Homo sapiens: one gene and its partners. The protein of the gene in region 4 interacts with the protein of the main gene of each other region in a pairwise test. Each region holds a gene or a part of one and is shown on either strand. Other genes may lie near its edges.

Evidence for each region.
Region 1: the proteins of BOLL (region 4) and SEMA3B interact in binary tests that used the Homo sapiens proteins (3 or more experiments, as listed by UniProt).
Region 2: the proteins of BOLL (region 4) and DCANP1 interact in binary tests that used the Homo sapiens proteins (3 or more experiments, as listed by UniProt).
Region 3: the proteins of BOLL (region 4) and SPMIP2 interact in binary tests that used the Homo sapiens proteins (3 or more experiments, as listed by UniProt).

What each region holds. Positions count from the first base shown.
Region 1 is NC_000003.12:50,264,485-50,272,152, reverse strand, and holds the start of SEMA3B (semaphorin-3B isoform 1 precursor), read right to left. Parts: upstream 3,007-7,668; 5' UTR 2,913-3,006; coding exon 2,804-2,912; intron 2,027-2,803; coding exon 1,869-2,026; intron 1,721-1,868; coding exon 1,658-1,720; intron 1,264-1,657; coding exon 1,144-1,263; intron 1,066-1,143; coding exon 972-1,065; intron 793-971; coding exon 673-792; intron 1-672. UniProt on the Homo sapiens protein: Inhibits axonal extension by providing local signals to specify territories inaccessible for growing axons.
Region 2 is NC_000005.10:135,444,327-135,452,049, forward strand, and holds the start of DCANP1 (dendritic cell nuclear protein 1), read right to left. Parts: upstream 3,023-7,723; 5' UTR 2,783-3,022; coding exon 2,048-2,782; 3' UTR 1-2,047. Other genes in the region: TIFAB (TRAF-interacting protein with FHA domain-containing protein B), read right to left, coding at 5,128-5,613.
Region 3 is NC_000004.12:158,969,215-158,976,237, forward strand, and holds part of SPMIP2 (protein SPMIP2), read right to left. Parts: intron 4,098-7,023; coding exon 3,865-4,097; intron 1-3,864.
Region 4 is NC_000002.12:197,775,314-197,782,336, forward strand, and holds part of BOLL (protein boule-like), read right to left. Parts: intron 6,553-7,023; coding exon of another isoform or gene 6,538-6,552; coding exon 6,409-6,537; intron 3,754-6,408; coding exon 3,662-3,753; intron 1,801-3,661; coding exon 1,746-1,800; intron 428-1,745; coding exon 352-427; intron 1-351. UniProt on the Homo sapiens protein: Probable RNA-binding protein, which may be required during spermatogenesis. May act by binding to the 3'-UTR of mRNAs and regulating their translation.

The DNA of each region.
Region 1 (7,668 bases), on a different chromosome or scaffold from region 4:
CTACAGGTGTGTGCATGCCACTGCCCCCAGCTAATTTTATTTTATTTTTTGTCTTGCTTTGTAGCCCAGGCTGGTATGAAACTCCTGTCTTCAAGCAATCTGTCTGCCTCAGCCTCCCAAAGTGCTGGGATTACAGGTGCAAGCCATTGTGCCCAGCCCCCATGACTCTTAGAATAAATGACTCTGGCCCCTGACAGTCCAGGCCCCCTTTTCATTGCTAGCTCTGCAAGTCTATTCCTTTGCTTGTTCTTGCATCCAGGCCTTTGCACTAGTTGCTCCCTCTGCCTGGAATGCTCCCTCTGCCTGGAATGCTCATCCCTAAATTTTGCTGGCTAGCTGTCTTGTGCTTGGGAATTAGCTCATACTCCCCTCAGCACAGCGGCTTCCTTTACCCAACCCCCTCCAGCCACCCAGTCTCCTTTTCCCTTCCTCCCTTGTCTCTCTCTGGCCTCAAGGCCATTGGACTTGATCTTATCATGTATGTGATCTGTGAACTCAAAGAGGTCACGGTCATACCTGTCTTGTCTGTCTCTGTGACGCCAGTGCCTGATTAAGGAGGGTATTTGGTAAGACCTGGCCACACCCACTGCTCACTTACTTTATGGGCCTTGCTTGGCACCTGCCCTGTGGGAGGGTGACGACCTCTACCCACCAACCCCACCAGCCTCTCACCATTGAGCCAGCGGGAGTCGTGTGGCTCTGTTCGGAGACTTGGACGTTGCCCTAGGCTGCGAAAGATGGTAAAGTCTCGTCCCATGAGGTCTGCTGCCACCCCTGAGTATAGCTCCTCCCCTGCAGACAGAGCAAGGGCCACTCAGGCAAATGGAGGGCTCTTGGGGCAGGAGGGCCTGGGGAGCTCTGGGAGTGAGTGAGGTTATGGGGGATTCCCTGGAGCTCTTGGGGGTCTTGGGACTTTGTGAGGTTCTAGAGTTTCTAAGGGGTTCTCTTGGGGCCTTAGCCCTTGGACTCACCCACCAGCACGGAGGCAGCCCGATGCCTGGGGTCATAAGGACTCTTCCCCTTGCCATCCTCTATCCTTCCTGGGTCCAGCCGGAGGACGGGCTCCTGGGAGGTGTGGCAAGTTGTGACTACCAGGCCCTTCTTACCCTCCTGACCTCCCTCCCTGCCTAGATCCGGCCTTACCTCTGCCCGGTGGCCCACTTCCACAAAGGCACAGGTTGGGTGGAAGGCTCCCGTGCCACAGGCCAGCAAATGGGTGCGGTTGTAGGCATGCAGCAACTTCACGAAGTTCATGCACTCAGTCTAGTAGGGTTGGAGGTGTGAGGCTTCCCCCAGGGACGTAGCCTTAAGAGGTCCCAGCTCACCAGTGGCATCCTCACCCCTCCCTCTCTTCGGCATCAGCCCAGGCAAGTACTAACATGGGCTACAGGGACCTGGGGGCCCTTGCTGACCAGCCCAGGCCTCACGAGGGTGGGTGTCTGGGGAAGCACAGGCCTGCAAAGCCTCCCATGACTCAGAGGCACCCCAGAAGAATTACACGAGCCCCCACCCTGACTCACCACCCCCAGACCTCAGCCACCTCGACCTCCCTGCCCTCATCCCAGCCAGAACAGGCAGGCCTCTGTTTTAGCCCTGCCCTGTCTCTGGGGTGAGGGGCTGACCCTCCCCACTCCCGGCCCGGGCAGCTGGCACTCACACCAATGTCCTTCCCTGCCCAGTTGCACTCCTCTCGCCATTCCACAGGGGCCGGCCAGGCCAGCTATCGGGAGGTTGGGGGAGAGGGGACACAGGTCAGGAACTTGGGATATTCTCTACCTCAGGGAGCCATTCCTCTGGGTCTCTCCAGGCTGGAGTGGGGTCCCAGGGCTCCTTCCCTGGGGAGTGCTGGGGTTGGGAGTCCCTGGCACCTTCTTGGCCCGCTTGCTGATGTTGTCCAGGTTGAGGGAGGCCACATGGTTCTCGGCACCCACAAACAGGCGTCCACGCTCCTCATCCACCAGCAAGGCCTGGTAGCAGCAGGTTCGCTCCAGGCTGAAAGTCTGGAGACCATGCCAGGCCTGGAGCTCTGCAGGGCAGGACACTGCTGATGACTCGCCAGCCATGCTGGAAGCCTCCCCCAGGTCCTGCCTGGTGGTGACTCTATCGGCCAAGGTTGCCATTAGGACCTGGCCTGTACACATGTGAGTTTACATGTGTGTGAGTTTACACACGCAAACCCAAGCCCACCCAGGTGCACGTGTGGAGCTGCCAGGGTAGGTGGTACATCCCCCCAGGAAGAGGAAGGCAGGTTGAACTTGGGCATGCTCAGACAGGTGGTGTCTCCAGGCGGGCGCACTGGGAGGCAAGGCTTATGGACACCAGAGTCCTGGGGGAGACTGGCATGCAGGGATGGCCAGAACCCCAACTCCCAAAAGTCAGGCTGAGAGTTCCTTTCCTGCCACTCCACCACCAGCCTGAGCTCAGCAGAACTGCCTATTCACTGCCACTGCCCAGGGGCCACCCTCCTATACAGGAGGCATGAGAAGGGGGCTCTGACTTCCCTGTTGCTCTGCTGAAGGAGTATCGCCTTGTTGGGGGTACTGAACGGAACAGAGACAAGGTCTGTTGCTGTGGGGACAGGAGGGGTCTTCCTGAGAAAGCACGAAGAGAATGTGGGCAGAGGCTGGGGGCTGAGGCCCGGACAGGGTTAACTGGAGGTGGCCTGAGAGTGCCCACTAATCCTACCAGAGTCTGGTGACAGGCACGCACATGGGGCAACAGCCAACACAGAGCCCCCTGGCCATACGGGGACCCTTTCCTGCCCACCTCAAGCTGGGCCCTCCCGCCTGCCAGGTGCACCTACCTTGGAAGGAGAGCCGAAGGCGTGGGGGGCTGGGGGCGGCACTCCCCAGCCCCACTGCCCAGAGCAGGGCCAGGCCCGGGATCACGGCGGCAGCCCCGGCCCGCCCCATCTCAGCAGCTCAGGGTGCTCAGGGTTCAGCGGGTGTGTGTGTGGAGGAGCCTTGAGCTGCCCTGGACTCTGCCCCAGGATCTGGAAGAGGAGTCAGCAGTGAGGGCGAGGGCGGGAGGCTAGGGGGGGAGTCCCCAGGGATCAGATTACAGCCCCTAGGGGAAAGAGGCTGGGGGGTCGCATTCCACTTCCGAACCCTCCCCTCCGAGGGTGCCCCGCCTGGCCACAATCACAGACACACCCACGCCACTGGGCACACCCTCAGGGTCACCCTGCACTGGCAAGCCCGCCTCACCACGTCACCCTTCCCAGTAATCTCCTCTCTTGTATACACACTCACAGACATTAATTCACAATGTGCCACCCACTTCATGCCAGCCTAGACCTGGGAGGAGGGATACTGGGAGACATAGACAAGGTCCCCATGTGAAAGGGGACAGAGTGCCAACAAGGAATCAGATGGATGCAGAGGGTGCCAAGTGCAATGAGCAAAACAAGCCAGTCAAAAGAGTGAGAGTGACAGGAGGGGGTCAGGCCTCTGGAGGTGGCAGTGTCCCCACAGTCCCGCAGAAAAACACAGAGACACTTTTGAGGCTGGAGCCAAGGGTGTGGGTGCCTGTGAATGTGTTTCCGAGTGTCCCCTTGTGATGTGCGCATGTGTGTAGTGTGTATGTGCATGTGTGTGCACATCTATGTGCAAATATATAGTGTGTCATATTGCACATGTGTGGATATGGGTTGGTGTGCACACACATGTGGCACTGTGCAATCCATGCAGTACATATGTGTGATATGTGCATATTTTGCACACAGATGTGTTGCACATTTGTGCATGTGCAAACGTGTGCACCCATAAGAATAGACATGTCTCTGGGCATGCAAGTGAGCAAATCCAACTGCAGCATCAATCACTCCATTCCTCAGAGGGAGAAGTGCTACCCAGGAGACCCAAGACCTGGGCAGAAGCCTCAGCCTCTGACTTGGGGACTGCTCCCAACCCAGCTGAAGCAGCCTCTGCATTTGAGCTTGAGGGCTCTCTCTCCACACCCCTGAGGAATCAAAGAGGGGCAAGGTGAGGCAGCCCTTCATTTGCACCCCAGCCTCCTGGCCTCGCTGAGCTGGCCTTCCCTCTCAACGCCTCCACAGCCTCTCTGAGCCTCTCCCTTCACTTCTCTCACCCCTTGAGTTCTTCCCCATCTTTGAGCCCCTTCACTCTAGGAGCCAGACACCTCCCCCTGGCCCTCAGCTGGGGCAAAGACCTGGCTGCTATGCCCACCCTCCTTCCCAGGGGTCAGCTGGGCAGGTGCTGGACACAGGAGCCCAGGGAGTGGGACAAGGTTCCAGGTGGGATTAAGCAAGTGGAGCAGCTGCTGAGGCAGGTTCCAGGCCCCTCCACCCACACTCCTGCCCAGCTCCTGGCCCCATCCCAGGCCAGGACCCCCACCTCCCTCCTTCCCTCCGCTGACACTTGCCGCTGCCTCTTCTCAGGTTCTAGAGGTCTTCCAGGCCAACACTGGCTGCCTTCTCACACTCCACCGAGGACTTCCGCAGCAGCATCTCTCCACTCTGGCCCCTTCCCACCCTGGGGCCGCTGGGGACCCTCTGACGGCTCCTTTAAGAAGCAGCCCCCGCCCCCACCAGGCCAGCCACCGCCCCACGCACCGCCCGCCGTGCCGTAAAGTTTAGAGGGCGGATCGGGTGACCGGGCAGGCAGCCGGGACCAGCTGGAGACGGCAGCCAGGCGGGAGTGGAATGGGCACAAGGGAGGGGCTGGTAGGGACGACCCCTCCCATATTGGGCCTTAAAGCAGAAGGGTGCCCCAGGTGGCGGTCCCAGAAGCCAGGTGGCCAGCCAAGGCAAGGGAGGAAGAAACCCCAGCTCCAGGGGCTCAGCAGGCAAAGGGAATCACTGAGTGGGGGCACCACCCGTGGACTCCAATATCTCAACCTCTCCCTCCACAGGTGGGGAGCTGTGGGGAAAGATAATGGGGAGCTCAGCTGCCACCTCAGTTCCCAGGGACCGGCTGGGGTGGCCGGGCAGCTGGAGGTCAGGGGAGGGGCTCTCAACTGGAGGTCGGATGGGCCCTCAGGACCCAGTCCCCATCCTTCCTCAACACTTGGGCCACTTAGTACTTCAGTGGCCTGGCCAGCAGTGGCTTCTACCATGACAGCCAGATAGGGGAGGGAGAGGAGGGCAGGAGAGGGGCAGACGCAGGAGGAGCAGCAAATCTCACTTCTGCACCACAGGGCGGGGCCCATCTGGAGTCCGCCATCCTGGACAGGTAGCTTTGCATCTCTGCTGAGAGGTTGGGGGGCAGACCATGTGACCTCCCTTCCTCTGGCTTCTCTTTCTAGGTTGGAGGTGGGAGGAACAACCCCCACCAAACCCAGAGCCGAAAACTGAGGGAGTTTTACAGACAGGACGGAGCTCCTGCACCTCGGAGCCTCAGTTGGGAATGACCTGGGGTCTTGTCCTGAAGCTGAGTCTGGTGAACGTGCCCCATTTGTAACATGAGGGGTACTTCTCTGGAGGGACTGTATGTTGACAGTGGCAGAGTGGAGCCCTGAAGTCCACCTGAGTGAATATACCAGGGCTTGAGAATGGGCTTTGATCCTTCCATCCCCGCAAAAGGCATTTTCCTACCACCTCCCAAGGCTGATGGGGCAGTGTGGGCATTTCAAGTGTTGCAGTTCTGTTGCCCAGCCCTGGATGCCTCCAGCCAAGCAAGGACAGAGGTGGGGGGCACATCTCCAAGTCCCCTGGAAGTGGAAGTGGGGCTATGCCCCTCCTTCCTGAGCCTGAGGACCTGGTATACCTGGCCTGGCCTGGCCAGCTGGCAGGTAAATAACAGGGGCCAGTGGGAGCCGCAGGGCCCTTCAGGAGGGCAAGTGGAAGGACAGATCCCTGCCTGGGCTCGTGGGCTTCCTGGATGTGGCCTTTTCCTACTCCAGGAGTAGCTGCCTCTAGCCTTAGAGGACCTGGGCAGGCTCTCCTGGCTCCATGCAAGCAGACAACATTCTTTGGCTGTTTACAGCTTTCCACCCAAGCAGCCAGGATCAGCAAGTGCCTCAGAGGCTCCCATCCACTCCCACTGTGCCCCCATAGGCCCTCACTGCCTTATGTTTTTCCAGGCCCAGGGGCCCTGTCTCTGTTTCATCACCCCGCACCTTCCTCCACCTGTGTTCACTCTGGGAAACGGTATCAGAAACCCCCCCGCCACCGCCATTATCTTTCCAATAGCCTGGGAGTCAACCCCCAGCCAAAAGGACTAGACTGTCTCTGTCCCCATTGAGTGCTGTGCCCTGTCCTCTGTCCTCTAGATGTGTACCCTCCCTTGAGTAGGAATGGAGGTCTCCAGGGATGGGAGGTCAAGTTGTCCCTGATTCCACATGGTCCCCTTTCTGTTCCTCAGCCCCAGGTCCAGTGTGCCAGGCCATGGGTAGGGGCCCCCATGGAGGTCAGCACTCCAGGAGCAAGGTCACTGCCTGTGGGTCACACTGGGGGCTGGAACTCCTCGAGGATTCTGGAATCAGGCAGCCTGAGCCTGAGTCTCAACAGAATGGGGCAAACCAGGCAAGGCAGCTGGGGTCCCTTTTCCTGCCTGTACTCCTACCCTGGACCTCTCTCTTTTGAGGGAGCTTCCATGGGCAGAGACCTGCCTGGGTCCTTGCTCTGGGGCTGCCTGTCAGTGGCATGGCCTACCACGGCCTTGGCTTTTCCTTCTGGAAAAACCTGGATTGTTGTGCCAAATCTCAGCACCTGCCTCCCCACCCCTGGCCACCAGCTGGGCCTGCCCCTTTGCCCCTGCCTGGACTCCGGGTGGTGTGGTTGGGGTGGGACACCCATCTGAGGAAGGTTGTGGCAACCCTCCCAGTGCAGCCTGGACTGGATGGGATCTTGGGCGCCCCACTCACACCTGCTTTAGTCATCAGGGCTTGTGGCTCCAACGTCACAACTCTTCCTTGTTCTGGCCACGTAGGTACCAGGTCATGCTGCCCAGAGGACTTAGGCACAGTGGGGGCAGGCGTGGGCGGCCATAGGATCATCACCTGAGGCCTAACTTCCCAGACACTCTAAGGCCCTGCCCCAGGGGCATCTCCTGGGGAAGCGTCTGCAGGCATGTCCTCACCCCAGCCTGGTCTCCACATTCCCAGGGAACCCTGGCCCACCTTTTTTGAAAGATTAGCTCCTCCCCTCCTTGCCTGTTCCCCTTCCCTTCTGAGGGCCCTGTCAGAACTGAGATGGAGGTGCTGAGGGAGGGGCTACCAAGAACCCTGGGCCTTTGGCTGTGGCCCTACCCCCGCCTGCCCCACCCCTGCCCTCCCCTCCTGCACATTCCTCCCAGGCTGAGGTCAGCCCTTCTGGGATGCGGGAGCCCCCCCAACCAGCCACATCACAGCTCTTCCCTCACTCCTGTTTTCCTCATTGCCCAGCAGGGAGGAGTGGGAGGAGAGGGGGCTGGGGGCGGGGCCTCCCTCTCCCTCCCTCCTCTGGAGCCCGGCAGGGTGGAGGGGGCTATGCCAGGAATGCTGGAAAGTGGACTCTGAGGGCACACTGCACTCATGAACAGACATTTACATAAATACTACATTCTCCTAACTGGCTAGGGGAGAGCCTCCCAGGAGTACTGGGTATGGGGCTCTGAATGCTCTGGGGGAGGGCTGAGGAGTCTGGAGCCAGCCCCAAGGATCAACCCCCTTGTTAGTCCAGCAGGAGGTGGGGCTGAATCCCTACCCTGCCGCTTAGCCGACCCCGTG
Region 2 (7,723 bases), on a different chromosome or scaffold from region 4:
CTTAACTGGGCTGGGTTGTTTACTCCTCCCACAGTCTTGGATGGGTTTTGAGGGTCTGGTGCGGTGTCCGGTGAACGGCTGCAATGCAGGTTAGGCTGCCACCATGAGGGAAGCTGGAGGGAGGACCTGTTAACCTCATGGTACTGTGGCGACATCAGCCACCACTACGTGTCACGGGGTGGATGCTGAGGAAGAGAAAACAGAGCAGAGCTGGAGAAGTTCGTACAGTAGATACAGTGGAAGACAGGTGGCTCAGCTGGCAGCCCACTGCAGGGGTGGTGGAGGTCGCAATGCGCTGTCCCCACCACATGGAGCTTGCTTGCCTCCGCACCTCTTTGCTGGCTGCAGCCTTGCTGCTCAGTGGGCGGTTGTGGAAAGAATCGGTTCTCAGTTCCCATTCCAGCTCTGCTATTTAGACACCGGGAGACCTGGAAACAGCCCCTTGACAAAGTCTTGCTCTACACGTTTCTGTAGTGACCGTCCATTTGAAGGGATAGGGAAATATTCCCTCAGTGTCCTGCTGTGAAACTGTTAAAGCCACCCATCCTATGAAACTCACTCCTTTGGGTTAAGCATCACGTTCTCAGTCCTTTCCTGTGTGGATGGAGTGTTGGCACAGTGAGGCGGGTGTTGCAAGTGGACGCGTCGGGGGTGGTCTGCACGGGCTGGCCTGCATAGCCCAGGGGTGGAGAGAGGGGTCAGACTAGAACCTATGGAGACTTGGTGGGCAACAGGCCTGGGCTCAGTCCAGCCAGCCCAACCTCTGATTGCTATCCTCAGAGCCCCTCCAGGGTCTCCTTGGCAGGGGCTGTCCCCTATGAGCCTCTGCAGGGGACAGGAAGTGCTGACTGAGAACTGTCTCTCTGTGACATGCACCCTGTCAAATCCATAAACCTTCCTCAGCAGTCACCACACAGAATCCCAAAACCCCAGGGTTCTGCTTGAGTTAGAGCTACAAAGTCTCAAGGACTAGAAGGAAGCACCAGCCTTGTTCTGCCCCAGCTAGAGGGTCTGCGCTGCCCCAGCCAGAGGGTCTGTGCTGTCCCTGCTGAGGCCTACAGGAGGCAGAGACATTCACCTCCACTTCCTGTCTGCCCATGGCTTCGCGGCCTTCTCACCCCAGCTGGCCAACTGGCTTCCCACCACTATGGGCCTCGCACTGCCCATGCCGGGCCTGAGGGGCCTGGCTCAGACTTTAGTATCCAAGGGGACTGCTGCCTTGACCACCAGAGCCCCCCCGTCTGTGCATCTGTCCTCTGTTCAGCTCTGGAAAGGCCACCGGGAACACAAGAGCCAACAACCCATGGCCTTTGTCTGCAAGGAACTTGAGGTCTCACCGGGCAGACAGGCACGGAGTGAGTGCTCCACCATGGGCCTCCCTTCCTCCAGGTTGCATCCAGGACTATGCTGTCTAGCGTGTCTGCTGTGACTTCCTCATGGCAGAGCCCCACACTGTGGCTGTTTATGGAGCATTTGCAAGTCTCCCTCGAGGGGAGCCCGTGTCTCTCACGGACAGCTTGGCAAGATTCACATTCTTGGAAAAGCAGAGGAATGCGAGGGTTAAAATACCTTAAAGGGCAAGGAGATGATTTCTAGATTTCCAGACAATGTCTCAGAGAATTGTAGTGCTCTGGGGTATGCCTGAATGTAACTAATGTAGCTCCTTTTGTGCCTGAGTGTAGACTGGGTCCATGTGCCTACATGCATTCAGTTCCTCCCACCAAACTGGACAGTGATAGCTAACCCTGTTGACCCTTATGTCTGGGTGCCTTAAATTTGTGATGCCTCAAACTGACCTTCACAATGACTCTAAGGAGGTAAGTACTGTGAACTTTCCCGTTTTCTACAAGAAGAAACTGTGGCACGGAGAGATTCAGTTACTTGTCCAGGATCACAGAACTATAGTAAGTGGGGGTGGGGACAAGAATTCTAACCCAGGCAGCAGTCTGACCAGAGGGCCCTAGCTGGGAGCAGCGTTCATGTGCACTGTATGTTCGTGTTTAGTGTATGTCTGTGCATACTTGCGTGTGTGCACACGCACACATGTTCACTCAGGCACGTGGGCTGCCCTGCGGTGGGAGCTGAGAGAATGCAGTGGAGGTTGTTGGGAGGAACTCACCCGCCTGCTCTGGCTGTCTGAGCAGGTGAGGGATAGTGATATCAAGTGCGAAGACCAGGCCCTGAAGCCAGCCTGACGGTTCCAGCTGTTAGGAGAAAGTGAAGGTGGGTGCCATGGATCTGATGATTTCAGTGATTTTCTACTCAAGAAAAATGAAGTCTCGGATGGGCAGAGCTTAACTGCCTTAAAAACTTGGTACAGGGCAAGGTGTGAGTTTCCCGGTGAGACTGTGTGAACTGTGAACGGGTAGAGTCTGAAACTACAAACCAGATGTTTCCGGGCTCCCTCCCGCCTGGTCTGGCCTGTCTTCCTTCTGCTGCTATGCAGTTCATCCTGGGTCCCTGAGGGCCTCGCAGATGCTTCACTCGAAAGATTGGAGTTGCAGAGTCCCCTGTGGAGGAATTGAACTGCCCCCTCTCGCAGGACCCCAGCTGGCAAGGTTTTGTTCCTCCCTGGAGGGTAGAGACCCTCACTGAGGCCCTGGAGAGGGGCACTCAGGGGCAGCAGCTCATTCCCAAAGTTCTCTGGTGGAGCTGGGGAGTGGCACCCTGGGAACTCTGGGGTTTCCCCACCAGCTCCTCTCTCCAGTCTTTGGTGTCCAGGTACAGTCTCCAGGCCGTGGCTTCTCGAGTTCTGTATGTGGGTTGCTGCTCCGTAATGCATAGTTGGGGGACCATTTTGGTCAGTGACAGATCACTGCTGCTTTTCATCAGACCAAAATACATGTGGCTTCTTCTCCTTGCCAGCCCTACCAGGGCATCTCCCATTATACTAACCCTGCCTATTGGACCTTCTGATGCAAGGAGCAGATTAAAATCCCCTCCCTGTTGCCTACCAGGTCCGTGGCTACAACTAAATCCCTAGTTGGGGAATCACAGAGCACAGGTAAGCCCTTGGGTTCTGGAGCCAGCTTACTGGGGTGTGAGTCTTCCTTAGCTCCGTGTGGATGGTGAGCCCTCCTCTCTCAGGTCTCATGATAGTAGCTAACCCTTATTAAGTGTGTGCTGGGCACTGATTGAATGCTTTACAGGTGTCACCTTCTAAGACCCTCGTAACTCTAGCAGGTAGTACTATTATCTTACCCATTTTCCAGCGGGAGAAATAGAGGCAAGAGCAGACTAAATCACTTGCCCAAATCGCATAGCTACTGATGGTGTGATGTTGGGCAAGATATGTAACCTTTCCAAGTCTCAGTTTCCTTATCTGTTAAGTGCAGTTAATACACACAGCACCTAGCAGAGTGCTAAGCACATGGTAGGCACTCAACAGGCAAGGCCACTTAACAAGAGAATGTGAGCCCAGCTGGAGGAGAGAGAAAAATACAATGACTATAGCACTAATCATAGTAGTGATCAAATAAGTAATGCACTCCTGAATGCTTGACTTTCCTGAGTGCAAGGTAAACTCCCTGAGGGAGTTTGCCTTATTCACTTCTGGTTCAGTTCCGTGGCTTTGCACAGATCTGGCACAAGGTGGGTGCTTGGTGAAGGTTTGCTGAATGAATGAGGAACTGCTTTGGGGGTCCCAAGGGGTCATTCACAGCATCAGAGAGCCCCTTCCTAGCAGCCCTGCTCTCCCTGCCTTGTGGCTGTGATCTGAGTGTTTTTGCTTCATCCCTATTGGAGAGGAAGCTTCCCACACCAGGGCAAGCCTGGGTCTTGCCCACCTCTGTTTTCCTGATGGAGAAGATGCTCAGGGCCTGTGAGTGAAGTTGGACCTCCTTGTAGCTTGCCCTGGGTGCAAAACGATCATCCTTTTGGGCAGAAAACAGAAATTGTTGACAGCTACAGACCCAGAGATTCGAGTCAGCCAGGGGAACAGGGCTGTGCCCTTGGTGCCTCAGATTCCCTGGAGAGTGGGGTCTGGGATCATGGTGACCATGTAGATCCCTCCCTGCATCACACTAGTGAACGTTGTTTCTAAACCACACTCTCCCCTTCTCAGCATGGCGTGGCAAATAGCTGCTGCCCTTGTTCACCGAGAAAATCCTCCTGCCCTTGGCGTACCTGGCTCCTAACGAGTCCCTTATTTGGAAGGAATTCCCCCACCCCCATTGGTGTGTGACTCACCCTGAGCGAAATAACTGCTGGGCTGAGTTCTTACACAAACCCCCACCCCATCCCCTCATTCCCTAAAGACCTTGCCCTCAAGTCAACCAAGGCCTTGATCCAGAAGTGACAGAGAATGCGGAGTGTGAGGATGAGGATGATAAGGGGGACAATGAATTTCCAGGCAGGCCCAGCTCCCAGCTCCCATCCTCAGGAAACCCTGAGCCCTGCCTGCATCCTTTCCAGAAATGTGAGTCCCACCTTTCCAATTTCCTCTTACACCTCGTCTATATTTCCCACCCCCACGTCTGCATGACAGCGTGGCGTGCATGTGGCCCATCTGGGGATCAGGGAATCCTATTGGGTATGCCAGCTTAATGAAATACTTGCAGTTTATTACACTCAGGCTTTCCTAAGCCCCGCGTGCCTGTGGGTATTTGAAAGCTGAAGGTAACCCCAAGCTACCACAAATGTAATTGTTACATGTGTCCACGCATTCCTGGTGCAACCTCAAACTCCTGCTCTTAAGCAGCACACAAAATGAACCACATAAAGTAACTCCTAGTCAGACAACAGGGAGAAATGTGTGGAAATGCTGAGAGAGGCTCCCCAGAACCCCTCAGGGCCTCTAAAAGTATATGATGTTCCCATTACATTGCATAGCTCTGGCCACAGAGGGTGCTTCTCCCCCCTGGGCTGTTTGTTCGGTGTTTGCAGAATTGGTTCATTATGAGCAAGGCAGCCAGTGGGTTTTGCTTGTCAACCTTGCATGATGCAGCTCAAGTATTTCAAATCCTGTTTCATCTAGCAAAGGCTTGCTCTAGTGGCAGGGCTAGCAGAGTGCACTGTCTGGGGGTTCCCTCTGGAGCTGTATTTCTGTTCCTCCTCCAGGTCTTGGCTGGAGAGGGCTGTCCCAAGTCTGGGAAGGGCCGTGGAGAAACCCCAGGCAACCTGGATCTGCTACCCTGAACCAGGGGGAGGCTGCCCCTGGGAGATGCCTTCCCATTCGTCAGTTTCCTCAGCCTCAGGTCTGTAAATCAGGGGTGAAGGGCTGACATGGAAATAGCAGACAAAAGCCTCCAGGGATGTGCCTTCTTCTACGCGAACCAGCATCTGGATGCCTGAGAAGGAGACCCTGTTGACGGTGCTCAGGGGGACCTGCTCCAGGTACCTCAGCGTCAGCCCATTGACCCACACACAGCCCTTGCGGCTCAGGGCCTTGAGGCAGAAGGCCAGCAGGGCACTGCCTTTCTCCAGGTAGGGCTCCAGGGACAGGTGACGGCGGGAGAGGCGAGGGAGCTGCAGCTGGAGGTGGGCGTCCTGCCCCCGTCCGAGAAGCAGAGGGCTGGTATCATGCTGCAGCCGTGGTGGGACATTGGCAAAGGCAGATGGGCCCAGCGTGGGATGGTACAGGCTCACTCGCAGGACGGTGAGGGGCTTCTCCATGGAAGAAGTCCTGGGAAGTTGGAACATGGACACACAGGCTCAGCTTCAGTCAGAGACCTCTGTGGCTCCCTGAGCCCAGACACACTTGCCCACCTCAGGGGCCCTGTGCCTGTTCATACAATCACTCTGCCCAAGCCAGGATGGAGCCAAGGCTGGAATTGGTGTGGAAGGTCATGAGCTTAGTCTCTCTCATACTCTGAATAGAACATGCCACCCACTCTGTCTGACTTTTGGATTTCTGTAGTATAGATATATCTGTCCTTGTCTATGCAAGGGATAAGGCATGCTGGCTTGCAGGGTGGGGATTTGGTAATCTTTTGGTTATTTGGAGACAACTTGGCCCTGCTTCTTGGAAAGGAAAGGGTAGACAGACTGGCTACATTTTCCTTGTATCTGACAGTCACACAACAAACCCTTGCTGAATCCTCCTTTGAGCCAAGCAGGGAACCAGCTGCTGGGGAGAAGCAGATTCAACAACGAACCGAGCCCTGACTCTTGGGAGCACCCACTGGTGGAGGAGAGAGGTGTTTCTAGCATCAGGATGTGTGGAAGGACACAGAAGGAGGATGCTTAGCCTAGTCCTGGCCACCAGAAAGGCTGCCTAGAAACCCTGGTGAAGAGTAAACAGCTAGCACATTCCGAGTGGTTACTATGGGCACTTGCTGGAAGGCCACTCACAATGGCCAGCTTTGTTCCTGCATGGGTTTGAGGAACACAAACTCTGCTATGTCCACCAGCACCCTGTGGCCCAGGACCTGCCATCATCTTCAACAGGAACCAAGGGTTGAGTGGATTTGAATAACTAATTATACATTCTCTGGGTACCAGGCTTTTGCTCACATTATTTCTCTCCTAAGAATGCATCTTCCATCCCAAACTCTGTGTCCAAATACTGCCCACGGTTCAAGGCCCTGTTCAAGTGTTACCTCTCCTGTGAAGCTCCCTTCCCTGGGGAAGGTGACCTTTCGCTGCCTTCTGACTCCCACAACAGGGGGAATCCCCCAGGACACCTGGCCAACCTTACTCTCCATTCATTCCATCTTTGCATTTCATGCCCAAGTTCTGTGGGCCCTTGTCCTGTCTTCCCTGAGTTCCTCTCTTCCTGCCCCTGAGGCCTCCCAAGGGCTGGGTATGGTCTGGGCTGTGGTTCTTGCTGCCCCATGTTCCACTGCCCCATACAAATAGGGCCTGGCCACCATAAATGTCCAGGGGCACATTTGCCGAGTGGCTAAATGAGAAGCCCACACACACACATGGTGAAATCACCCAGAGAGACCACAAATGGGATCATGTCTCAAAGGCTGTGGGACAGCGAGCCTGTTGCAGGTGGCTTGAACTCAATGTCCCTCCAGGTCTTGAACCTGCTGCCCCTCCTGCCTTTTAGATGCAGTAGGTTAATGGCTGAGACCTTTTAGTCTGATAGTGAGGGCACCCTTTCACTATCAGAGGCCTGAGGGCACCCCCTTTCCCCTAAGGCACAGACACACATATGCCTCTACCCACACCCCATCTGGCCATAGTCTGCCGAAAGCCTTTCTTTTTTTTCTTTTTTTTTTTTTTCTGAGATGGAGTCTCACACTGTCACCCAGGCTGGAGTATAGCGGCATGATCTTGGCTCATGGTAGCCTCCGTCTTCCAGGTTCAAGGGATTCTCCTGCCTCAGCCTCCCCAGTAGCTGGGATTACAGGTGCCCGCCACCATGCCCAGCTAATTTTTGTATTTTCAGTAGAGACGGGGTTTCGCCATGTTGGCCAGGCTGGTCTCGAACTCCTGACTTTAGGTGATCCGCCCGCCCCGACCTTCCAAAGTGCTGGGATTACAGGCGTAAGCCACCACGCCCAGCCAGAAAGCCTTTTCTCGAGGTATGCGTTACAGGCTGAGCCCAGGACAGGTGGGCTGGGCAACCCATGCTGTCAGGCCTGGCTGGAAACTCAAGAGTTCACTCCCAGAAACTAATATCACGGCACAGAGACCCTGAAAGAATCCCTCAGGAAGAAAGATTCACAGTTGCTGTGTGGCCTTACTCTCTGCTCCAACCAGAGCTAACAGAAATCTCCCACTAAAGAGGAGCCCATCCACGACAGGCTGTCCCGTGTCTTTTGGATCCCAG
Region 3 (7,023 bases), on a different chromosome or scaffold from region 4:
GAGTCCCCATTGAGGTTGGGGTTAAAGAAAGGCCAGTGGAGAGGAGATACAACCAGCTAAGCAGCAGTTAGAAAAGTTCCTTAGTTTAGCACGGGATTGAAACTAAAGAAACTGTTTCAATTGTCTCCATATATTCTTGCAGAAACAACATATATAGTTTGATAAAGACCAAATCCATTTTTTTTTAAAGAATGTGCTGCTCTTAAATCCGAGATGATGAAAGTAATGGTCTGTCCTTGTTTATACATACATTTATTATTATTGCATTGTAACCCATGTAAGAGTCAGTAGGAAATAGCTAAACATTAAAAAATCTGGAAGAGGAACTCGATCTTGTGATTTTTACTGACCTCCGCAACGTGGGGGAAGATTTTCAGGTGTCACTCAGCATGGAAGTTATTATCTTCCTGCAAAAAGCCAGATGATCTGCAGAACCCCTCCTAGTGCCCCAAATAGGAGAAACCATTCCCAGGTAGGAGGCAGCTGCTCCAGGCATTTTACCAAGACTCTATTGGAGGTGCCTGAGCATCCTTAACCGCCAGTCTTATATAAACCTGGAGCAGTAAATTAGGCAGAACAGCTGTTAGAGCTATAAAAATCCAGGAGATGAAAGTTTTGCTTAAAATCCAAGCTCTGAGCAATTGCCATGTGAGACACTGAGGAGTCTCTGCAGTTAGACTAAAACAAGAAGTGACCATTTTGATTTGGATTATTATGGGACAAGGAAGAGCAAGGGATATGGAAAGGGTCTATAGACAGATAAGAAACTGGAGAACGAACAGGAAGTGGATTGAGACATTTCTCAAAGTGACACCACACTGAGAAGTTTACCAGTTCCCTTGTGAGGGCGGCCCTGGGTTAATGCCACCACTCTTGTATAGTCTTTGTAATTAGGAGCATGTTTGAATGCATGGAGTGTATGTGTATGTATCGGCTCAAGTGTCAATTCACGCACCAAGTCTGATTTTTTAGAAGTAGCTGCCTGAAGCACAGGGTTGATAAGGAATCAAAAGTCTGAGTCTACACTCCAAAAATGACACTGTGAGCTGGGCACGGTGGCTCACACCTGTAATCCCAGCACATTGGGAGGCCGAGGTGGGAGGATCACTTGAGCTCAGGAGTTTGAGACCAGCCTGGGCAACATAGACCTTGTCTCTACTAAAAAATTTTTTTAAATTATCTAGGTGTGGTGGCATGTGCCTGTAGTCTCAGCTACTCAGAAGGCCGAGGTAGGAGGATTGCTTGAGCCCAGGAGATGGAGGCTGCAGTGAGCTATGAGCATGCCACTGTACTCCAGCCTGGGGGACACAGTGAGACCTTGTCTCAAAAAAGAAAAACAAAAAAAAAAGATTTTGATCTGCCTTAGATGGAAAGAGAGAGCAGTATGCCTTAGATGTAGAGGGAGAGATGAGTAGACCCAGTGACAAAACCTAGATCTTAACTGTTAAGGAAATTATAGATGCTTCAGTGCTGGTATGTGTGGTCATTCTCAGTGAATCTTTTTTTTTTCCTATTCTAAAGCTCTAAGTCCAAGGAGCTTTAAGGTATTGTTCAAGATTGTTATCTGAGACAGCTAGACCCTTGAAAACAATTACTGTTAAAATACTGGGGCCAAGAAAGTGCACAGATGAGAAGCAACATTTCTTATAGTATATTCCAAGCAGTTTCTGAGCGTGCCACAGCTGGGGAAGAAAATCACTGTGTGATTGGTTCACTGTGAGATTGGTTCACAATCTCAGAGACAAAGAGGACCCCGTTACTCAGCAGTGCAGTGATTAAAAGCAATCCATGAAATACTAACTAGAGATACAGAATAAATACATTCCTGGAAGGCTAACTCACAGCTATCATCTCTTTTGGATTCCCAGCTTGCTTTGAAGACCAAGGAATGCTTGATTGCACTTCATTTGAGCAGAAAAATAGGTTAAGTTAAAGATAAAGAGGGAGAGAGGCTATACACACTCAAGATGGTCTGACAGATTGAGGGCTGTGTCCGAGAGCAGGACATCATCACCCAAGGAGAAACACCAAGACAACAAAAGTTCTGGACTTTATTCAACCCAGCCGCCTTGCTTTGGGGCTGGACTTTTCTTGCTGGTGGTTAGTTTGATATTTGATCAAATCTTGGATTTTCATTTTTATTGCCTAAGTGGAATAGGACACAGTTTAAGAACCTAAGCATTCATTATACTCAGCTTGTCACTCAGAAACTGGTCTTCTTTGGAATATGCTGTAAGAGACGTTGCTTATCATCAGTGCCTTTTCTTGGCCCTGGCATTTAAACATATTACAATACATTAAATATAATATCATACTAAATTTAATGAGTTACATGAAATACAACCACAACAGTACTAATAGCTAAAATCTGGATGTCAGCCTGGTGCCAGGATCGCGCTCAGTGCATTCCTTGGGTTCTCATATATAGTCCTCACAACATAACAATATGAAACGCATATAGGGCTTGATACATGCTAGTTACTGCTTCTAGTGCTTTACTAATATTAACTTATGCACTGTTTACAACAGCCTGTTACCTGAGCAAAGACAATGCAAAGGCCTGCCTAGAAAAAATATCCTAGAACTAAGATTTCATAATGAAGACACTGACGCACAGAGGCAAATGAACTTAACCAAGGCCATACACAGCTAGTAGGTGGCAGAACTAGGATAGAAATTTAGATGATCCTGTGAAGTGGGCCTCTGAATACTGCCATGTAGAAGAGGCGCAAACAAAGATGCAGAGAGGTGAACTGATTTGCCCAAGGTCACAGAGCTAGACCTAAATCAGAGTGTAACCTCAAAGACTGTGCTCCCATCCACCCTCCTGGACTGCCATAGTTTGGGCCAGAAAAAGGTTTTTCTGGCCGGGTGTGGTGGCTCACGCCTATAACCCCAGCACTTTGGGAGGCCGACGCAGGTGGATTACCTGAGGTCAGGAGTTCAAGACCAGCCTGGCCAGCATGGCGAAACCCCATCTCTACTAAAAATACAAAAATTAGCCGGGCCTGATGGCATGTGCCTGTAGTCCCAGCTACTTGGGAGGCTGAGGCAGGAGAATCGCTTGAACCCAGGAGGCCGAGGTTACAGCGAGTCAAGATCGTGCCACTGCACTCCAGCCTGGGCGGCAGAGTGAGACCCTGTCTCTAAATAAATAAATAATGGTTTTTCCTTTTGTTAACCTTTACCAGATGAAACTTAAGAATTTGAGGAAATTCAGTTATTGCATGATTGATACATTTAATTTTCAGACAATGCACAGGCCTGTCTGGAAAAAAATATCCAAATTCTCAGATTTTACTTCTAAAATCCCTTGTGCACTCTTCTGTTTCAGGGGAGACACCAGGATCTCATGCCTATGTCTACATCACCAAAAGGAAATAAGACAAGGTTTCTAAAACCCTCTGACAACATACCCTGAATTATTAATACTTGATACGAAGGCATTATCAGTACAGTGAATCTTAAAGATCTGAGATGCACGTGTTAGGTTTGTGGATTATGGGATGCCCAGCACAGGCTTCTTTCTTTCCATCGTCCACGCATGAAGCAGTGCTAGGATGGGGGAAGAGTGTGTGCAAGTGCCTCAGCCTGAATGTGAATCAGAATACATTCCAAAGACAAACACAAACGCTTTTGGATTATCCATGGCTTTGTTTTCCTCATACCCTTCCCTTGATGTATTAAAGGGCTCCAGGAGTGGAGCACATGCATTTATTCACACATGTGTCTTTCTGCAAAACTCAAACCTCATTATGTCTCAATGAGAAATCAAGCACCCGACATTTCCTTTGGAAGCAAATTCATAAAGAATTCAAGTTAGAAAACAGTATACTATGAAAAGCATAAATTTAAGAGCAATACCTTGATATGAAAGCCACTCCCCAGTCTTGATTTGTTGATAAAATTATACTGTGGTATTCTCCAACCAATTTCACTGACGTACTCATGTTTATATTTTGCTGGCAAGCTTCTATTTGAGGCAGGCCTCCATAAATATCTGAGATCTCCAGTTTTTTCTAACGCCAGATGCTGTTCTCCTACATAGGAGGTGTGCTGATGAATTTTGGGTAAATAATCCTTTATGTAGTCTGGACCTTTAAAAGACAAAATGTACTTAAAACTTCTCCACACTTTATTCTAAGATACTTTTGTTATTTTAACCGTTGAAATACTAATAGCCAATAATTATATGGTACTTACTACGTTCTAGGTTCTATTATAAGCCTTTTAGACATGTTAATTCTTATTAATACTTATTTATAATTAATAATTCTTATTAATGCTTATCTGTTAATTAATGTTTATTAATAACCAAATGAGACGGGTAGAATTTTTTTCCCCAGTTTATGTATGGGGAAAATGAAAGATTGGTTACTTGTCCAGAATTATAGCTAACAAGCTCTTTGTACCCAGACAGGCTGATGCGAAGGTTGGGCTCTTAATTGACCCATTAAACTGCTTTGTATATAATCAACTTAATACAGACATGGGCTGGATGTGGTGGTTTATGCCTGTAATCCCAGCACTTTGGGAGGCCAAGGTGGGTGCATCGCTTGAACTCAGGAATCTGAGACCAGCCTGGATAACTTCTGAGACCCTGTCTCTACAAAAAATAAAAATTAGCCAGGCATGGTGGCACACACCTGTGGTCCCAGCTATTTGGGAGATGGAGGTAAGAGGATTGCTTAAGCCCAGGAGGTGGAGGCTGCAGTGAGCTATGACTGTGCCACTGCACTCCAGCTTGGGCAATAGAGCAAGGCCACCTCAAAAAAAAAAAAAAAAAAAAAAAGACATGATATATACTAAAATTTATCCCATGCTACATTTGCAGGATGTAGGCCTTCAGATATTGAGGTGTTTTATCTAGGTAGATAAAAATCTGAAATGTGTATTAGAATACTCCGAAAATGTATTAGCAAAAATTGAAAAATGGAGAAAATTGTTAGATGAGGGTAGCTTATAACAGATTACCAAAGGCAGAAGTATTTGTATTTTAAAAGTAAAACAATGAACAAAAAAAAAAATCAATGAATTATAGAAATAGGTGAAAAAAGCAGAAACAAGAGAAGGTCTGGGTAAAGATCACTTAAATGAATTTTTTATTATGATACTTTAAGTTCTGGGATACATGTGCAGAACGTGCAGATTTGTTACATAGGTATACATGTGCCATGATGGTTTGCTGCACCCATCAACCCGTCATCTACATTAGGTATTTCTCCCAATGCTATCCATCCCCTTGCCCCCCACCCGCAACAGGCCCCCTTGTGTAATATTCCCCTCCCTGTGCCCATATGTTCTCATTGTTTAACTCCCACTTATGAGGGAGGACATGCAGTGTTTGGCTTTCTGTTCCTGAGTTACTTTGCTGAGAATGACTGTTTCCAGCTTCATTCATGTCCCTCCAAAGGATATGAACTCATTCTTTTTTATGGCTGCATAGTTATTGCATGGTATATATGTGCCACAATTTGTTTATTCAGTAAAACATTGATGGGCATTTGGGTTGGTTCCAAGTCTTTGCTACTGTGAATAGTGCTGCAAAAAACATACGTGTGCATGTGTCTTTATAGTAGAATGATTTATAATTCTTTGGGTATATACCCAGTAATGGAATTGCTGGGTCAAATGGTATTTCCAGTTCTAGATCCTTGAGGAATCGCCACACTGTCTTCCACAATACTTGAGCTAATTTACACTCCCATCAACAGTATAAAAGCATTCCTATTTCTCAACATCCTCTCCAGCATGTTGTTTACTGACTTTTTAATAATCGCCATTCTAACTGGTGTGATATGGTATCTTACTGTGGTTTTGATTTTCATTTCTCTAATGACCAGTGATGATGAGCTTTTATTCATATGTTTGTTGGTCACATATATGTCTTCTTTTGAAAAGTATCTGTTCATATCCTTCGCCCACTTTTTGATGGGGTTGTTTTTTTCTTGTGACTTTAAGTTCCTTGCAGCATCTTGATATTAGCACTTTCAGATGGATAGATTGCAAAAATTTTCTCCCGTTCTGTAGGTTGCCTGTTCACTCTGATGATAGTTTTTTTTTGCTGTATAGAAACTGTTTAGTTTAATTAGATCCCATTTGTGAATTGTGGCTTTTGTTACCATTGCTTTTGGTGTTTTAGTCATGAAATATTTGCCCATGCCTATGTCCTGAATGGTATTGCCTAGGTTTTCTTCTAGGGTTTTTATGGTTTTAGGTCTTACATTTAAGTCTTTAATCCATCTTGAGTTAATTTTTGTAAAAGGTGTAAGGAAGGGGTCCAGTTTCAGTTTTCTGCATATGGCTAGCCAGTTTTCCTAACACCATTTATTAAATAGGGAATCCTTTCCCCATTGCTTGTTTTTGTCAGGTCTGTCAAAGATCAGATGGTTGTAGATGTGTGGTGTTATTTCTGAGGCCTCTGTTCTGTACCATTGGTCTACATATCTATTTTGATACCAGTACCATACTATTTTGGTTATGTAGCCTTGTACTATAGTTTGAAGTCAGGTAGTGTAATGTCTCCAGCTTTGTTCTTTTTGCTTAGGATGGTCTTGGCTATGTGGGCTCTGTTTTGGTTCCAAATGAAATTTAAAGTAGTTTTTTTCTAGTTCTGTTAAGAAAGTCAATGGTAGCTTGATGGGGATAGTATTGAATGTATAAATTACTTTGGGCAGTACGGCCATTTTCATGATATTGATTCTTGTTATCCATGAGCACGGAATGTTTTTCCATTTGCTTGTGTCCTCTCTTATTTCCTCGAACAGTGGTTTGTAGTTCTCCTTGAGGAGGTCCTTCACAGCTCTTGTAAGCTGTATTCCTATGTATTTTATTCTCTTTGTAGCAATTGTGACTGGGAGTTCACTCATGATTTGGCTATTATTGGTTTATAGAAATACTTGTGATTTTTGCACACTGATTTTATATCCTGAGACTTTGCCAAAGTTGCTTATCAGCTTAAGGAGATTTTGGGCTGAGACAATGGGGTTTTCTAATTATATAATCATGTCATCTGCAAAGAGA
Region 4 (7,023 bases):
TTAGTTTCTAATTAAAATTTTTCTCATTAGTAAGTCTAAATTATTAAATTACTTCTAATTACTTTTGCTATATTAAATGATATTTTCATCACGAAAGATTTTTTTTCCTTTAATGATGTAACTACATGGAATATACTTAAGCATCTTTATGTATATAAATTTTTTCCCAGCCAAAAAAATTGAGATATATTATTTTGTGGCAAAAATATTCAGTTTTTCCACCAACTTTGCTAAAATAACTTTATTAGATGAAAGAAACATGATCTTTTAATAAAGTTCTATAAAAAGTCTTATATTTCAAAAAAGAACCATGCAAAAATATTTAAAAATACATTAGTTCTCAATACATACGAGGGATCCCTACTTGTTGTTTTCTTATTGCTGGACCAATGTTCAGCTTCTTATCCTTATAATTAAGTTTTTCAGCCTAAAATAAAGAAAAAAGAAATTATTTTATTATTTTAGCACTATTATTTATAAAATCAATAAGGAAAAACTAGTTAGAAAGAATTTCAAAAATTCAGACTATAATATTCTTTCAAAGCAGCAAGGAATAGTGGGAAAGAGCCGTCTTCAGACTGAAATAGATCTGGGTCTGACCGCAATTCCCCATTTTCTCCATTTGTAATACAGTCAATCCTCATTACTCATGGATTCTGTATTTGTGAATTTGCCTACTTGCTAAAATTTACTTGTAATCCTAAAATTAATATTTGTGGCAATTTTGAGGTTATTAGTGGACACGTGAAGAGCGGCGGAAAATTTGAGTAGCCTGATGCGCATGCTCCCAGTTGAGGTCAAATAAGGCGATATTCTTTCTTCTTGTTCCAGTGCTCATACTCTAAGAGAGAGCTTTCTATTTAGTGCCATGTTTTCTCCATTTTTGTGCTTTTTGTTGGTGATTTGGCTATTTAAAATGGCCCCCATGTGTATTGTTGAAGTGCTGGCTAGCACAAGAAGACTGTCATAGGCATTATGGAGAATATATATATTAGATGTGCTTAATTCAAGCATGAATTATAGTGCTATTGGCCATGGCTTCAATGTTAATGAACCAGTAATCTGTTATATATGATGCCTTTAAATGGAAAACCATATAAAACAAGGTTATATATTGATAGGTTGATGGCAATATTGTGACCAGAGGTTCTTGGGAACATTACCTTGTACTTCCCCTAGAAAGAGGAGTTCAGCATTTGCTAATTCAGTGTTCCTAGCAATGTTAGAGAACATAACTGCCACAAATAACAAGAATTGACTGTATTTGATTTTAATAACATACAATTCAAATTCTACTTTTTTTCTAAAAAAGTTAAATGTTATATTTGCCTTAACTTAAAGTTATTACACTGAATTGCTGGCTATAGGCTTTTTTTCTGTGAATATTCTTAGTTTATATAATGTTTTTCACAGGAGGGAAATCATCTCAGATAACCTCACTGTTGGAATCCACATTTGTAGTGTTTTTTAAACATTCAAAATGCTATTAACACTTCGCAAAAGATATATCCCCAAGTTCTTAATTTAAGTAAATAAAGCGAAACATTATATTACAGTTTCACAACCATACTTGTAGTGATTTTGGAATTTGCTCTTCTGCAGATTAAGTTTCCTAGAGACCAATGCCAATCTTAAGATGCAAACCTTTTTTAAAAAGCAGTTGATTATTGTATTTGAACCCCGAAAAGATTAGTTTCAAATACAAAATTTCCAGAAATGAAGTTAAATACACCAAAAGATCATACCTCTTGTAAAATTTTTTGTGCATCTTCTTGTGTTTCAAAAGTGACGAAACCATACCTAAATAAATGCATTAATTATTACTAATTAATCATTTTCTTAGAATGTTATATTAATTATATTAAAATGTTTAAAAATTTTGTTTTTAAATCATCGGCCACTGTAGGAGTAGGCATGTTTCTATGCTGCACTAGCATGGGAATCTTAGAAGAATCATTCACAGCCTAACACTGTCACTTTTAGTCAGGAACTAAAAGAAAAAAAACCCCTGAGATCTTGAAACAGCTTCAGCTCTCAGCTGTATGCAGGAAAGAAAAGCACAAGAGATTCATGCTGTTGCTTAAAAATTGGGGATGCAATAAATTTCAATCCAGAGCAATAATCTCCTTTTAAACTAATAGAAGTTTGGCTAAGAGAAATCAAAGTAGAAAAATAACTAAAAAATTTAAAATTTCAACACAATAAAATTTCTTATATTGGTGAATGACAATGTAAATGTATTATTTAATTATTATTATTAGCACATATAACTGATAATGTAATTATTAGTATATTCCCAAACAATATCAATTAAAAATATGTACAACCCAGATTTCACATCTGTTTTTCATACATAATTAACTTCAAGCACAATTCATATAATGTTGAAGATACAAATACACATAAATGATGTGCTCCATGTCCAAAAAGCCACAATAGGTAGAGAAAAAAGTAACAAAAGAAAGAAAAAATGTATCTCTCAAAACATAATTGCTATTTAGATAACTTAAGTAAACTCTTCTGAGTAATGCTAAATATCTTCACTATTTTCTTCAATTCATAATTACTGGATCATATACAAAGTTTCTTCTTTTAAACAAAGGAATTTCTCTTTATCTATTTGCCCAAACATTAAAAAGTTAAGGAATTAGTTTTACGCTATTTTTTTGGTAGAACACACACGCCACCCAGTGGAAAAGGCATAAAATACAGTTTACATTTACATTTCCATGTATGTTTTCCAATGATTAAAAAATGGTATTACCAAAACATAGCAAATTCTGTTAGTCAAACAAAAGAGGTAAATCTCACTTCACCTTAATATTGTTTGGCATTCTGAGGAAGTATCTCATCTGTTTATAAATAACCTTTCTGTAGAATCCCATCTCTTCCAGCATATCCATCTGTCGAATGTTGTTTCTCACCAATACCACCTCAATGGGTCCCTTTTCTTATGCCTATAAATATGTATGTCTCGTCTCTCTTTCAAGAAAGTAAATACAATACTTTACTGCCTTATCTATTTTCTTTTAACTTTGCAGTCCAACTCCTTAAGTGAGTGTACTATGTAAACTATCTTTTTCCTTTCTGAAATTTGGCTTTGTACACATAGCATTCCACTGAAACAGCTCTATACACATTTAAAGACACAGTCTATTACTTTCTTCTCAATTTTCATTATCATTGATATAGCAATTAAAAATCATTCTCACTAGAATTATATTTCTCATACTGGTCCCCTAATTAGGTCTCTGAGGCACAACCTACAGACATTTCTTGGTGTCAGCTGTTTTCAAATAAAGCTCTCTATGGCCTAAAGCAGGGATACAATTCCAAAAGAATCTGATTCCTTTTGCTTCTCATTCCTCAGCTAATGTACATCTGCTACTTACATTAAGTGCTTGCTGCCTACCACTGAATGGTCCCTCCACCCATGCAAGAATAACTTCTCAACAAATTAAGAAATATTACAGTGTCTCCTCCCTCCAAAATACACACACACACACACACACACACACAAGGAAATCAAAAGGTAGGAGGAAAGAAGAGGGCATGATGGTCTCTGCTGGAAAATGGAACCAAAGTAAACTGGCGTACAAAACCTAGTCATCCAATGAAAATAGAGTTGCTAATTCCATAGACAATCTATAGTGATACTAACCCTTTGGATACTCCAGCTCTGTCATTTACAATCTTCACTTCTTTCACAGACCCATACTGGGAAAAAAATTTTCTTAAATCACTTTCGTTTGTCTAATGGCATAAAAAGAAAACGTTAAAAAGCATTTTTAGTTGATAAAAGATGAATAATTCTCATGCTTGCTCTGGAGACAGAAAAAGTTATAGATAAGATGCATGAAAAATGCCTCTCATCATCAAAACAGTGCATAAACCACTAGGTGATTAAAATCAAGGTAAATATCTTGCTTTATGCAATAGCTATGTTGTTAAATTACCATATGCCAATAAAAATGTAAGCTGAATTATTTTAAAACTACAAAACTCACTATTTAAAGAAATCTTTAAATGATTCTTGTTCTCTAGCTGGCCAGTTTTTAAAAAGCCAATTTGGATTAGGAATGCTATTTCCATAGTAAGGGTACAATACTATTTTGGCTCTTGTGGCTCAGAGACAGTCATGGCAGTGGAACTAGGTTGTGTTGGCCTACACCAGTCATTCTATTTTAATCAGTAGTCTCAGGAACTCCTTTCCTAAGTCAGTTTTAGGAAAGGAATGTATTTCCAAAAGTGCTTGAACTCAACTGTGAGAACAATGGAGTGACTATAAGATTTAAAGTTATTAGATTCCTTATCTGTACTCAATATACATTTCAGCTAAATTCAGACATTGTTTTGATAATAAAATAAAAATTGGAATCATAATTAGATTTAAAGCATACAAGGTGTCTACAAAGATGGTTTTGGCATGTCTGTTTTTTTAATTGAAATAGTCTGATAATAGACTCATATCACCTTTTCTCAGAATACTGACACTAAATTCATTGCAATTTCATTTCCTGGTTTAGCTGTAACTGTTTGTCTACAAGAGTAACTTTTCTCTAGAAAAAAATTTCTTTATATACACTGCAAAAAGACATGCCTTAGTGCAGAGCTATGCCTTTTGAGTTCAACTGCCACCTCACTACTTACATACACTATTGGTTTTTAGTTGGTAACATAAAGCCTGCTAAGCTGCATAATGACAAATACTGATTCAATCTAAGAAAAACTGAATGACTTTTATTTCAGTTAACAGAAAATGAAATCAATGCTAGAATAAGAATTGTTACTAGATATTTGAATACAAATTAATTCCAACTATTCTCTGGTAGAATAATCACTACCTCAATTTTGTAGCTCCACTTCTTTAGTGACAAAGAGACAGTCAAGAAAAGTAAGCATTAAGAGGGATAGTCTGTTTGCTTATAAAAATGAAAGGTTAAAAAGTCTGTGACTACTTGCTATTAAAGTAAATGATTTCCTTGCTGGCCTTTATCTGTGGTTTTGAAAAAGGTATAAGTATACAGGAGGAAGCCCTAGCAATTACCTTAAAGCTATGGCTGCATTATAACAACCGTCTCCAAAGTGCATGCTGTAGCTGATGGGCTTCAGTAACCTAAAATAACCTGGCCATACAAATGTTTATATTTATTGATAACTTATTTTTAAAAACATGCTAATCTATTGTAATATAAATGAATTCCCAAATTGAACATTTCTGCCAGCTATCAGTATTTTCCACAAAGAAAATCTTTTTAAAAATAAATATTTTATAAGAAATAATTTTTCTTACTTTATTTTTAGTGAAACAATCATATACTTGTTTAAGACTCATTGTTTTGGCAAATACACTAAGTGTAACATTTCTCTTGTGCAGGAAAAAAGAAATTCCACCCAAATTGTAACAGATTGGTTATATGGAAATAGTTATAAATGTCAAATATCACACCTAATGGCATAAGGAAGGTTTTTTTTTTGTTGAAAATGATAACTCTCCCTATAATTTCTAATATGTAAAATAGAAGCTTGGAAATCCTTCTATATATCCATTTGAAAGTAAGAGTATTCCACTTAAAATATCTATGCATGCCTTTCTTGTAGGTGTTTACTCTTACCTCCCCTATGTGGGCTGGGGGGCACTGCACATCATGTCATGAACTATGCTTTCTTGAAACAGTGGAATGGCTGATTACATGATATAAATATATTAGTTTTTAAAAAACTTTTATTTTAAGTTCGGGGTACACGTGCAGATTTGTTATAAACTCATCATTGGGGTTTGTTGTATAGATTATTTTGGCACCCAGGTACTAAGCCTAGTACCGAATAGTTATTTTTTTTTCTGCTTAAATATACTACTTTTAAGATGCTTTATTCTGACAAGGACACAGGACTTTTTTGGTGATCAAATCCTAAATTCTAACATAGAAAGTGCTTTGCAAAGAATAGATGCCTAGGAGGTTGCTCAGGAATCTGAGATAAGAGTTGGGGTAAAGAAATAGTATTTCATAAAAGTAAGTTTTTAAAAAATAGAGTCTCTTTTGAAAATTATAATAATCAATTATTTTGGCTATTGGAATATTAGGCAAGAAAGTATAATTAGTTCTGGTATGGAAGAGTATGGAGCTATGAGACAGAAAACTAGGCTTCTAGTCTCACTCTGTCACTATGTGGCTAGCAGCCCACAGCAAGTCAGTGAGGATCAATTTCTTTATATCTGACATTGAACAGTTTTTAATGCTTTATGTAACCTACATGCTGGTTGAAAAGATTCTTTATAATAAGATAATTCAAAATCTGTTAATCATTATGCAAATATGTTATTTTATAGTTGCACAAAGAAATAATTTCTGAGAAATAAAGACTTCTAATGAAAAAATACACTTTACTGCATGCATAAATAGGTACCTTAAAATCAATTCCTCCTACAAAGATGCGATTAGGGATCACTGTTCCATATCTTGGGGCACTTGTTGGGTTATTCAAAGGCACAGGTGACACAGGATTAGGGGATGGAGATAATGAATCTGTTTGCATCTGGTTTGATGTTTGCTGTAAAATAAAATTCTTTTACACTTTTTGCACTGGGTATAATGCAGTCTGCTTTTGATGCAGACCAAAAACATATATTTTTCAAAAAGAAGAGTCATTTAGGCAAAATATAGTATTCTAGGCTTTACTTTTAATATTATAAAAATTATAATTAGAGCTAAGAGCTTTTTAAGGCAACAGAACTAGGAAACACAGAATCTACTCCACTATAGAGATTTTAAATATTAAATATATTACTTAAAATGCTTATATTATTATCAAACCTATTACTTAATTATTAAGGGGAATATTAAACTCATGAACATGTTTGAGAAAGAGAAAACAGTCCCAGCCTGACACAATCAACTACACCCTGGTGTTGTTAGGAGTTGGCCTGGCACTCACAGCTAGGCTGTGGTGTTCTCTTGTTAACAGAACACCAACATCAGACAAAGTCACCCTGTGACTCTGATGGATCAAGATTAAAAACAA